Linked DNA regions of Homo sapiens: region 1 is linked to region 2. Evidence: fine-mapped expression QTL. A gene starts in region 2. The other region holds a variant in brackets. All regions are shown on one strand. Distances are from middle to middle.

Region 1 (5,385 bases), 34 kb before region 2:
TCTGTTGCCCAGGCTGGTGTGTAGTGATCTCAGCTCACTGCAAGCTCCACCTTCCGGGTTCACACCATTCTCCCACCTCAACCCCCGGAGTAGCTGGAACTACAGCCTCCTGCCACCACGCCTGGCTAATTTTTTTTTTGTATTTTTAGTAGAGACGGGGTTTCACCATGTTAGCTAGGATGGTCTCGATCTGCTGACCTCGTGATCCACCCGCCTCGGCCTCTCAAAGTGCTGGGATTAAAGGCGTAAGCCACTGCGCCTGGCTGTTTTTTCATTTCTATTATGATTTGTCCTGTGGAATGTCAGTGACTTAGCGGTATTTTTATCACACGTTTATAAAGCTGAATAGTTTTGTATGTCAGCTCAGCACCCTTAGTGTCAGCCATGCTAGTCTCCTGCTGTGCATAGATCGAGGCCTGTCCATACCCGAATCTCCTGGGTTCCCACTGTCAGCACCTGAAGGTACCCACCAGATGTGTCTGTCACTTCCCTACATCCACCTCTATTGTGGTTCTCATGTTTCTGCCTCCCTAGAGACCATTTCTCTGTAGAGCAGCGCTTTCGAATAGAAATACAATGCCAGACACATAAGTTGTTTTAGATTTTCTAGTAGTCACTTTAGAAAAGTTAAAAAGAAACAGGTGAAATTAATGTTTTATTTCACCTAAAATGTTAGCATTATCCAAAATATCACTTCAACATCTTATCAAAATAAAATTATTAATGAGATTGGTTACCGTTCCGATAAATAGGTGAACTGAGAGCATACACAGTAGTATTCTGTTCTAATTTCTGCTTCACTGTGAGTGTCTTGACATAGTCTTAAAAGAGTATTGCTGTGAAATATTATACATGTAACTCATAACCTCTACAATTCTGCAGTTGTAATTGGTTGTCTTACCTAATAATCAGTTGCTTTGCTTCATAATATTTAAATTGGCATCTCTATTTTCCAAAAGGCATAAATACTAGTATAGTTTTTTAGTTAAGCCAGGAGAAAGTTCACTTTATTTACATAACTTATACGTAAAAATTTAATAAATCTCCCTGCTTCTTTTCTTTTGCATCATAACAACCACTGAAAATAATATTTCTATGGCAGTTGGGGGTAAATGGACAATAGCTTTTGTGACCAGAGGTGAATGGCCCAGGGTCTCCAGCACTCCAGGTCCCACTGAGCCTGCCCCACAGCTGAGGGCATCGGTATTTCCACACACCTATAATGTACAGTGCCCCAGAACAGAGATCGGATGCTCTGCTTTATTCAGATGGGGTGTTGAGAGTATTGTCATTGTAATTGAATTAGTAAGTAAGTATTTATACACTGTTAAAATCTGGTTGGATTTGTGTCCCTTCACAAAACAAATTGCTTAAATGAAACCACAGAGTTAACATAATTGACTACATCTGCTTCTATGAGCTGCTGTTCTAACATTTAACTAGAATCTAATTTGAAATTAGTCAATAAAAAGTTTATTCAACTGAATTATATTTAGACTTTTTGTTGTTGTTGTTGTTTTGAGATGGAGTTTTGCTCTTGTAGCCCAGGCTGGAGTGCAATGGCGCGATCTTGGCTCACTGCAACCTCCTTCTCCCGGGTTCAGGCGATTCTCCTGCCTCAACCTCCCGAGTAGGTGGGATTACTGGTGCCTGCCACCACGCCCAGCGTGAAGCACTGCACCCGGCCTTCATAGATTATTTTACTTTATTTTAGTTACTTATTTTTATGACTTTATTGTTATAAAAATGCTTGTTTTTAAAAAAAATCAACCAGTATAACAAAGAACAAAGAAGATAATCAACAAGCATTCCCACCTCCATGATTTAGAAATAACTGTCATCAATACAGGAAAATACCATGCCATTCTTTCTCCTCTAGGCACATGGACAGACAGATAGAAGGATGGGAAAATAGATAGATGGTCCAGGCACAATGGCTCACGCCTGTAATCTCAGCACTTTGGGAGGCCAAGGCGTGTGGATTACCTGAGGTCAGGAGTTTGAGACCAGCCTAGCCAACATGGTGAAACCCCATCTCTACTTATAATACCCAAAAAAAAAAAAAAAAAATTGGCCAGGAATGGTGGTGGGCTCCTGTAATCCCAGCTACTCAGGAGGCTGAGGCAGGAGAATCACTTGAACCCAGGAGGTGGAGGTTGCAGTGAGCCGAGATTATGCCATTGCACTCCATCCTGGACAACAGAGTGAGACTCCTTCTCAAAAAAAAAAAAAAAAAAAAAAAGAACAGTTGATGAAGGATGGATAGACTAAAACAATGCTGCATTAATGAGGCTACGATAGTGCGTATTTGTATAAAAAGCATTAATTTGCATTTGTTGGCATTTTGAAGCTCTGTTGTTGGATGCATACACATTTAGTATCTATATGTCGTTATGATTTGTAAATCATGTAATGCGTCTCTTTACATAATGATTTTTAAATTATTTTGTAATGTTTCT[C/T]ATTACGTTATGTAATGCCCTTATTAACTTTCCTTGGAAATCTTTTTTACCCGTTATCCATACAACCACTCTTGCTTTCTTAATACTGATGTTAGCATGATATACCTTTTTTCTTTTGTTCGTTTTTTATTTTAACTGTCAACTTACCTATGCTGTGTTTGAAGTGAGGTTCTTGTACGTGGCATGTAGTTGGGTTATGTTTTATTTTATTTAAACTGCCATCTCTGTCCTTTACATCAAAGGTAAATTGATGTTCTTAGACCACGTACCTTTAAAGTAATTCTTGATGTGTTAAAGCTTAATTCTGCCATTTTATTATTTGTTTTCTGTTTGTTTCCTGTTTCCCTGTTCTAGTCTTCCACTGGATACTTGATCACTTTTAAAATTCCATCTTGTTTAATTTATACTGTATTTGAGTATATCACTTACATAGTTCTTTTGGTGGTTGCTCTAGGTATTACAGTATATATCTATAACTTAGCCTATTGCTATCCACATTTAAGTACTTGCAGTGGAGCATTGAAAACTTACTTTCATTTAGGTCTTTACCCTCTCTACCTTTTAGATATAATTGTTTCCAATGTTTCCTTTTTCATATTGAGCATTCCAACATATGCTTTTATAATTTTTGCTTGAGTCATCAAATATGATTTCAGAAATTCATAAGAAGGAGATTCTTACGGCTTTGTGGCCCTAGATATACTGCCTGTAGTATACTGACCAGTGGCTCCAGACCTCTTTTCTTTGGTGGGAGAGGGTCTGGCACTTGGGTGGGCCTTGCCAAAATTTTCTTTCTCTGTTGTTGACCATCATCTCCCTCTGAAGTTTACTGCCTGACCTGTTTCTGTGTTTGGTTACTCCAGGTGAACTTGTGCTATTTCTGTTGTCTTTAGGTTGAGAGTGGTAGAACTTTTTTTTAACTTCATTCTATCATCTTTACCCCAAAGTCTTACATTTTTAATAAAATTAAAAGCCACCATTTTTGGTCCTTTGTCAGTGACAGCTATCTAAAGAAAGACATTAGCAGCTTTTTAGATATTTAAGGAAGTTTCTGTCATTCTTTGGTTGTCATATCTTTAGGAAACATTTTTTTCCCTAAATTACTCCAAATTAAATTAATCCTACAGTTGGTCTAATTTAATTTTTTTTTTTTTTTTTTTTGAGACAGGGTCTCATTCTGTAACCCAGGCTGAAGTGTAGGGGTGGAATCATAGGTTATTGCAGCCTCAAACTCCTAGGCTCAAGAGATCCTCCCACCTCAGCCTCCCAAGTAACTGGAACTGCAGGTGTGCACCGCCATGCCTAGCTAATTTAAAAATTTTTTTGCAGAGGTGGGGTTGGGTCTCACTATGTTGCCCAAGCTGGTCTCAAATACTTGAGCACGAGTGATTCTGTTACCCTGGCTTCCCAAAGTGCCGGGATTACAGGTATGAGCCACCATGCCTGGCCCAGTTACTTGCTTTTTAAATAGCTCAAAAGTTTTTCATCCTTTTAACCAAAGTTGCCAAATCTAAAGCATTATTCCTTTTGGTCATCAAGTAGAGGAATGGATGAATATATTTCAGTTTGCTTATTACTAAAATATGTTAGTAATAGCATATTTTATTCAAATCACTGCATATTAGCTCTGTCTTATTTTCCATTTTCATGACAAACACACCCAAAGCTCAGCTCACTGTATTTACTTTCTTTTCATGATACTGTTTGCTAAGTTTTTTCTGTTTGCTTCACCATATTTTGAACAATTTTCTATTAAACTAGGATATTTTAAAAGTTTGCCTTTTCAGGCCGGGTGTGGTGGCTCACGCCTGTAATCCCAGCACTTTGGGAGGCCGAGGCAGGCGGATCACGAGGTCAGGAGATCGAGACCATCCTGGCTATCGAGACCATCCTGGCTAACACGGTGAAACCTCGTCTCTACTAAAAAAAATACAAAAAATTAGCCGGGCATGGTGGCAGGTGCCTATAGTCCCAGCTACTCGGAGGCTGAGGCAGGAGAATGGCGTGAACCCTGGAGGCGGAGCTTGCGGTGAGCCGAGATGGTGCCACTGCACTCCAGCCTGGGCAACAGAGCAAGACTGTGTCTCAAGAAAAAAAAAAAATAGTTTGTGTTTTCAATTGTCTTATTTAGACAAACTCTGTAGTTTCAAAGTTATCTTTTTCTTGCCTGATGCCTTTGATGTTTGATGATGTTAATAATATACTATTTTCAAAGCCAATTTCTTATTTCTACACTGATATTGGAAAAAGAATAAAGTGATGAAGTCAACAGGTGTTATTAAAAAATGTGAATAACAGGAAAATGTTTTGTTGTTTGTTTTGTTTTGTCTTTGAAGTCTTTCACAGACTAGATTTGAAGGTTTATGAAGGATAGGGCAAAATTTTCTAAGGAAAGTTGCATCCTATGACCTCAGGCTGACTTCAAGTAAGAGTGGATTTGATAAAGGCATTGTCTTTCTTAGAGTATGTGCATCTTGGCAGAGGAGCCTGGAGAGGCAGTATAGAAGGATTGTTTTAGATGTTGGATCTCTGTAACCTGCATTTACATTTTGTTGAGCCGTTGTCATTTGGGGGAAAACACGAAAAAGAAAAGATCATTATCATGCTACTATAATGCACATCACATAGAATTGCAATGATTTGTTGGTTGTTCATTCCAGTCCAAGAACTGTGAGTTTCTCCAGCCAAAGGTCTTGTATTTATTGATCTTTCTGTCCCACAGGCCTAAAACAGCAGTTGGCCCATGGACAGTTTAATAAATGTTTGCTGACTAATAGATAGGGTATCTAAAATCTTTTCCATGGCCTTATCTCTGGAGATTAAAATTTTCCAGCACTTGTCTATAAAAGATGTCTATGCGTAACTGTAGGGAAGACATTGTAATTTCTGAAGAGGAGGAGCAAACCGACAAGGTTATTGTAGCATT
Region 2 (5,385 bases):
TGAGCTAACTAGGATTGCAGTGCATTGTGGGCCGCAACCAAATGCAGCAAGACAAGCCTAAAAAAAAAACACACACACACACCGGCTGGGCGCGGTGGCTCACGCCTGTAATCCCAGCAGTTTGGAAGGCCGAGGCGGGCGGATCACAAAGTCAAGAGATCGAGACCATCCTGGCCGACACGGTGAAACCCCATCTCTACTAAAAATAGAAAAGTTAGCTGGGCGTGGTGGCACGCACCTGTAGTCCCAGCTACTCGGGAGGCTGAGGCAGGAGAATCCACTTGAACCTGGGAGGCGGAGGTTGCAGTGAGCCGTGATTGCACCACTGCACTCCAGCCTGGTGACAGAACAAGACTCTGTCTCACAAAAATCAAAAAACAAAACACCTGAAGCCCCTACCCAACAATCAATAGGCAACATCCGGGAAGATTGTGACCCCATAGTTATCAGCCTATGAGGAACCAGGGGAGGAACCTGTGCACTAGGGGATAAATTGCTTGTTGAAACTGTTGGGTGTGCCTATCAGACACTGATCTTGCAAGACCATCATTAAAAGTCTCACTTTTGCTGTTCTCCGGGTCTCTGAGTCCATTCTTTGGGACGGGTAAGTTTGTTTCTCACACTCAAGAAATCATCTTTCACTATCCCACGCTATCTCTCCAAAACTGACTTGAATCCAACCAGAATAAATGTCAATCCAACCTTGTATTTATATTTATCTACTATAAGAAGTCCCAGAATTTCTAGTCAACTGTCTTTTCGGACATTGTATACCATCAAGTCTCATTTGTCCCCTTTTCTCATTCTTCCCAACTTTCAACACTTTTCCTGTATGCCTTCATAATGGAATTCATAATTCATTAACAACCAACTCCTCTTTTATCTTCAACCACTTCCTTGAACACGCCCTAACATTCTGAGTCTAACAGAAACTAGGCTGTATCTGGAGGACTCTGCAGCCCTCTCAACATTTCCCCAGCTACAGCCTCTTACCAGTGGGTCTGAAAATGGAACAGATGGCCGGCCTCCTTGTTGTTCACTACCTTCAGACCTTTCTTCCTCCCTCCACAAACTCTAGTTTTGAATTTCCTGCCATGAGATTGTATATAACTCACCACATCTCACTTTTGTTGACCTCTACCAAACACAGGGTATTTTCCCCCTATATCTGAAATCTTCAGCTCATGGTTTACTCTCTGCAGCGCGATTACCCTTTTCTATTTTTTTTAATTCTTGCATTTTTAACTACACCCACACAGATGAGCCTTGTTTACTTACCCTTGCCTGGACTTTTCCCCCCTCTCGTGGCTCATTTCCAACAACATGTTGATGGGTGGTTGTTCCCCAGCCGTCTTCCCCAGCCCTCTACCCCAACCTGCTGCTCCATTTCTCTGCTCTAATTTACGGAGAAACTCTTGAACTATGTTGTCTACACTGTGTCCCATTCTTCTCCCCTCCTTCTAGGTTGCCCCCACTCCAATCCAGCTACGGGCCAGCACAAAAACTGCTCCCCACACATTCACGAAGGACTATGCCTGTCACTCAACGCAAAGCTCAATTCTTTGTTTTTGGCCCCATAGCGGCTGCTATCACCACCTTTACGAACGTGGTCACGCACAACGCGACGCAGTCATAATCACGTACATACAGTCACATTTAAATAGTCCATTAGGGTCACACACAGCGCCTGTCAACGTCGTGTGCGCGTGCGCGCACACACACACACACACACACATACACACACACACACACAAGCTCCCGTCGCGGCCCCAGCTCCTGCATCAATTTCACTCTCGCATCCACTGCTCCCATCGCGATCGCTCGCCCCCACGCTCCCTCGCCGGCAAAGCCACCAACTCCAAAGACATTAGCACCTCACTCCCCTCAGCCCCGGCCTCGGGCCCTCCGGAGTCATTCGGCTTCTGTGTCTCGGAATCACTCACCCGGCCCTGCGGTCCCTTGATGGTGGAAGGTTCCGCGATCTTTCTATTAACCCTAAAGGGACAGAGGGCTGACAGGAAGTTGCCCGGGGAACGGTGCACTCTGGGAAATGTAGTCCGGAGCCTGGGCCGTCTTTAACTGCCCCGGACACCGCGGTCACCATTAACGGACCCTGCATTTGAGCCCCATCCCCTCGCTGGGCAAAGACCATCGCCCACACACCGCTCACATCTGCTGCCGAGAGCTTCCAGAATTCCAGGCCGCGTTTAGGAAGCTTCAGCGGAGGCATGCAGGCTGCCCTACCTCTGCAAAAGGCTCCCAGCCCTGGGAACAGGACAGTAAGCCCAGGCCATCTTAGGCTGGAAGTAACCTTGGTCCCGACGGCCCTGGGAAATGTAGTCCAGAGCCTGGAACACTGCAGAAATGCCCCGGGGGGATGGTGCGATGGTTTTCAGTAGGAGCTCGCTGCGTGGGCCTCTGACCTATGTGGCATGGCGGGAAAGTCCTACAAGACTGTGCCAAGCGAGTGGCGAGTCTGTCCCGTCTCTGCCCGAGCCTCGGCCCGGCTGGGTGGACACCTCTTGTCCCACAAGTACCAGCCTGGGATAGAACGAAGGGGAAACGATCCATGGGACACAGCTACATGCCCAGCCCTATAGGGGTACCCTGTCTGGGAATCCATGAGAACTCTTCCTAATACCTTATTCCCATCCTCCAATCGCCCTTAAAGTGTTTGGTTTCAATTAATGTTTATAGTAACATTAGTACTGTTTTGTAAATTCCATTCATGCCATTCTTTTTGCTGAAGTACACACTTGCCAGTTTTCATTTGCTTCTCTTTTAGATGTACATCATTTCAATCTACATCTAAACTTTCTGACAGAGGAGTAATTTTTTTCAGTACTTTCAAACTTATCAGGTAACTAAAATAGTTGTTTCTTTTTTTATTGTGAAACAGAAAATACTTGAAGTGCATAAAATGTGTAAGTTCAGTATAACTCCACACAAGTGTTGGTATCTCAAGAACAAATGCCCATTCTATGTGATCATTTCTCTTTTTGTTTGTTTGTTTGTTGTTTTTTTTGAGACAGGGTCTGGCTTTGTCACCCAGGCTGGAGTACAGTGGCACGATCTAGGCTCTCTGCAACCTCTGCCTCCCTGGCTCAAGTGATCCTCCCACCTCAGCCTCCAGAATAGCTGGGACTACAGGTGTGTGCCATCACACTCAGCTAATTTTTATAGAGACAGGGTCTCGCCATGTTGGCCAGGCTGGTCTCGAACTCCTGGGCTCAAGTGATCCTCCCAAGTAGGCCTCACAAAGTACTGGCATTACAGGCATGAGTCACTGCACATAACCTGTGTGATCATTTCTGATACCCAGCTCCAGCTCCAGCTGATCTTTAGGGTATTAATAATATCTTGGCTCTTTAATAGTTTTAATCTCTCAGCTGGACGCGGTGGCTCACGCCTGTAATCCCAGCACTTTGGGAGGCTGAGGAGGGTGGATCACCTGAGGTCAGGAGTTCGAGACCAGCTTGGCTAACATGGTAAAACCCTGTCTCTACTAATAATACAAAAATTAGCTAGGTGTGGTGGTGCATGCCTGTAATCCCAGCTACTCTGGAGGCTGAGGCAGGAGAATCGCTTGAACCCAGGAGGCAGAGGTTGCAGTGAACCAAGATCACACCACTGCACTCCAGTCTGGGCGACAAGAGCGAAACTCCATCTCAAAAAAAGAAAAAAAAGTTTTAATCTTGCTGTGAAATGTATATAAATGCAATCAAATTGTACAAATTTTCTGTCTTGATTAGTTGTTAAACTCCTAACTGGATTAACCGAAAACCCCATAGTAAAGGCCTTACAGAAGGAAAGGTATGCCCATCCAGCCATCAACATCATTTTCCTGGTACTACTGGCAGGGGACCCCAAGACCAACCACTACACGCCCAAGCTCTGATGATTCACTGGGAGGCTCACAGTGAAGTGATACAAAAGAAAATCAGTAAAGAAAAAAGCGCATGGGGCAAAGTCCAGGGGAAACCAGGTGCACACTGCGAAGGGTTCTTTCCCAGTAAATTTATATGGGATTTATTTGTTCCCCAGCAGTGAGTTGTGACAATACATGTGAGATGTTACCAATCAGGGCAGTTTATTATAGATTCAGTGCCCTATGTTTTTATTGGGGGCTGGTCACATAGGCAGTCTGTGCCTAACACATACCAGAATTTCAAATTCCCAGAAGGAAAGCGGGTGTTTAACATAAACCATACTGTTTGTACAAAAAGTTTAGGCATAGTAAGCCACTTATTAGGAAGGTGGGAACCAATCTGAAATTCAAGTTCTAGATGCAAGCCAAAGACTAACCTCGCATATCAGGCCTTTCTAAGGATAAGTAGTCTCAGACCTGCTATGTTAACTAATTTCTGCTCACTACTGTCCTAAAGATGTATGGTTTTCAGCAACATCAAATTACAAGACACATGAAAAGGCAAGAAAAATCATGACACTCAAGACATAAAAGCAAAAAGCAACAACAAACAAATAGAGGTAGACTCAGGTAGGATCTCCCCAGGAGCTTGAGGCTGCAGTGAACTGTGATTGCACCACTGCACTCTAGCCTGGGCAACAAAGCAAGACCCTACCTCAAAAATTAAAAGAAAAGAAAAAGATATGATGTAGATGTTGGAACTATCTAAAAAGGAATTTAAAATATTATTAATATTTTCAAAGCTTTACCATAATGTTTTTCAACCAGAGGTGATTTTGTTCTCCAGGAGATATACAGCACAGTATGAAGTTCTTGGTAGTCACAACTGGAGAGGTACAATTTGCATTTAGAGGACAGAGGTCAGGGAAGCTGCTAAATACACTACAAGCACAGGATAGCTTGCCACAACAAAGAATTATCCAGTCCCAAATAATGGTCCAAGGTTGAGATGCCCTAAGTAATCAAGACAGTGTGTTTTTGGTGAAGGACAGAAAGATAGATTAATGGAAGGAACAGGCTGGGCACGGTGGGTCATGCCTGTAATCCCAGCACTGTGGGAGGCCAAGGCAGGTGGATCGCATGAGGTCAGGAGTTTGAGACCAGCCTGGCCAATGTGGTGAAACCCCATCTCTACTAAAAATACAAAAATTAGCTGGGTATGGTGGCTCGTGCCTGTAATCCCAGCTACTCAGGAGGCTGAGACATGAGAACCTCTTCAACCTGGGGAATGGAGGTTGCAGTGAGCTGAGATGACACCACTGCACTCCAGCCTGGGCAACAGAGCAAGACTCCATCTCAAAAAATATATATATATATTTTTAGGCCAAGGCAGGCGGATCACCTAAGATCAGGAGTTCAAGACCAGCCTGTCCAACATGGCGAAATCCCATCTCTACTAAAAAATACAAAAATTAGCTGGATGTGGTAAGGCAGGGAGAATTGCTTGAACCCAGGAA

What was found. PIP is the estimated chance that this variant, and not a neighbour inherited with it, causes the effect.
Region 1: its variant is the best candidate, but not a certain one, in a credible set for the expression of ZNF790 in whole blood (INTERVAL, PIP 0.78).

Annotation. Positions count from the first base shown.
Region 1 is chr19:36,802,470-36,807,854 of GRCh38, forward strand. All of the region lies in intron 3 of ZNF790-AS1 (ZNF790 antisense RNA 1), which reads left to right. Among named protein-coding and RNA genes, the nearest start is that of ZNF790-AS1, 7.6 kb to the left of the region's middle. The variant C/T (reference allele first, on the strand shown) is at 2,460.
Region 2 is chr19:36,836,394-36,841,778 of GRCh38, forward strand. It overlaps ZNF790 (zinc finger protein 790), which reads right to left and starts at 1,994. Exons shown (of 5, transcript NM_206894.4): 1 at 1,944-1,994.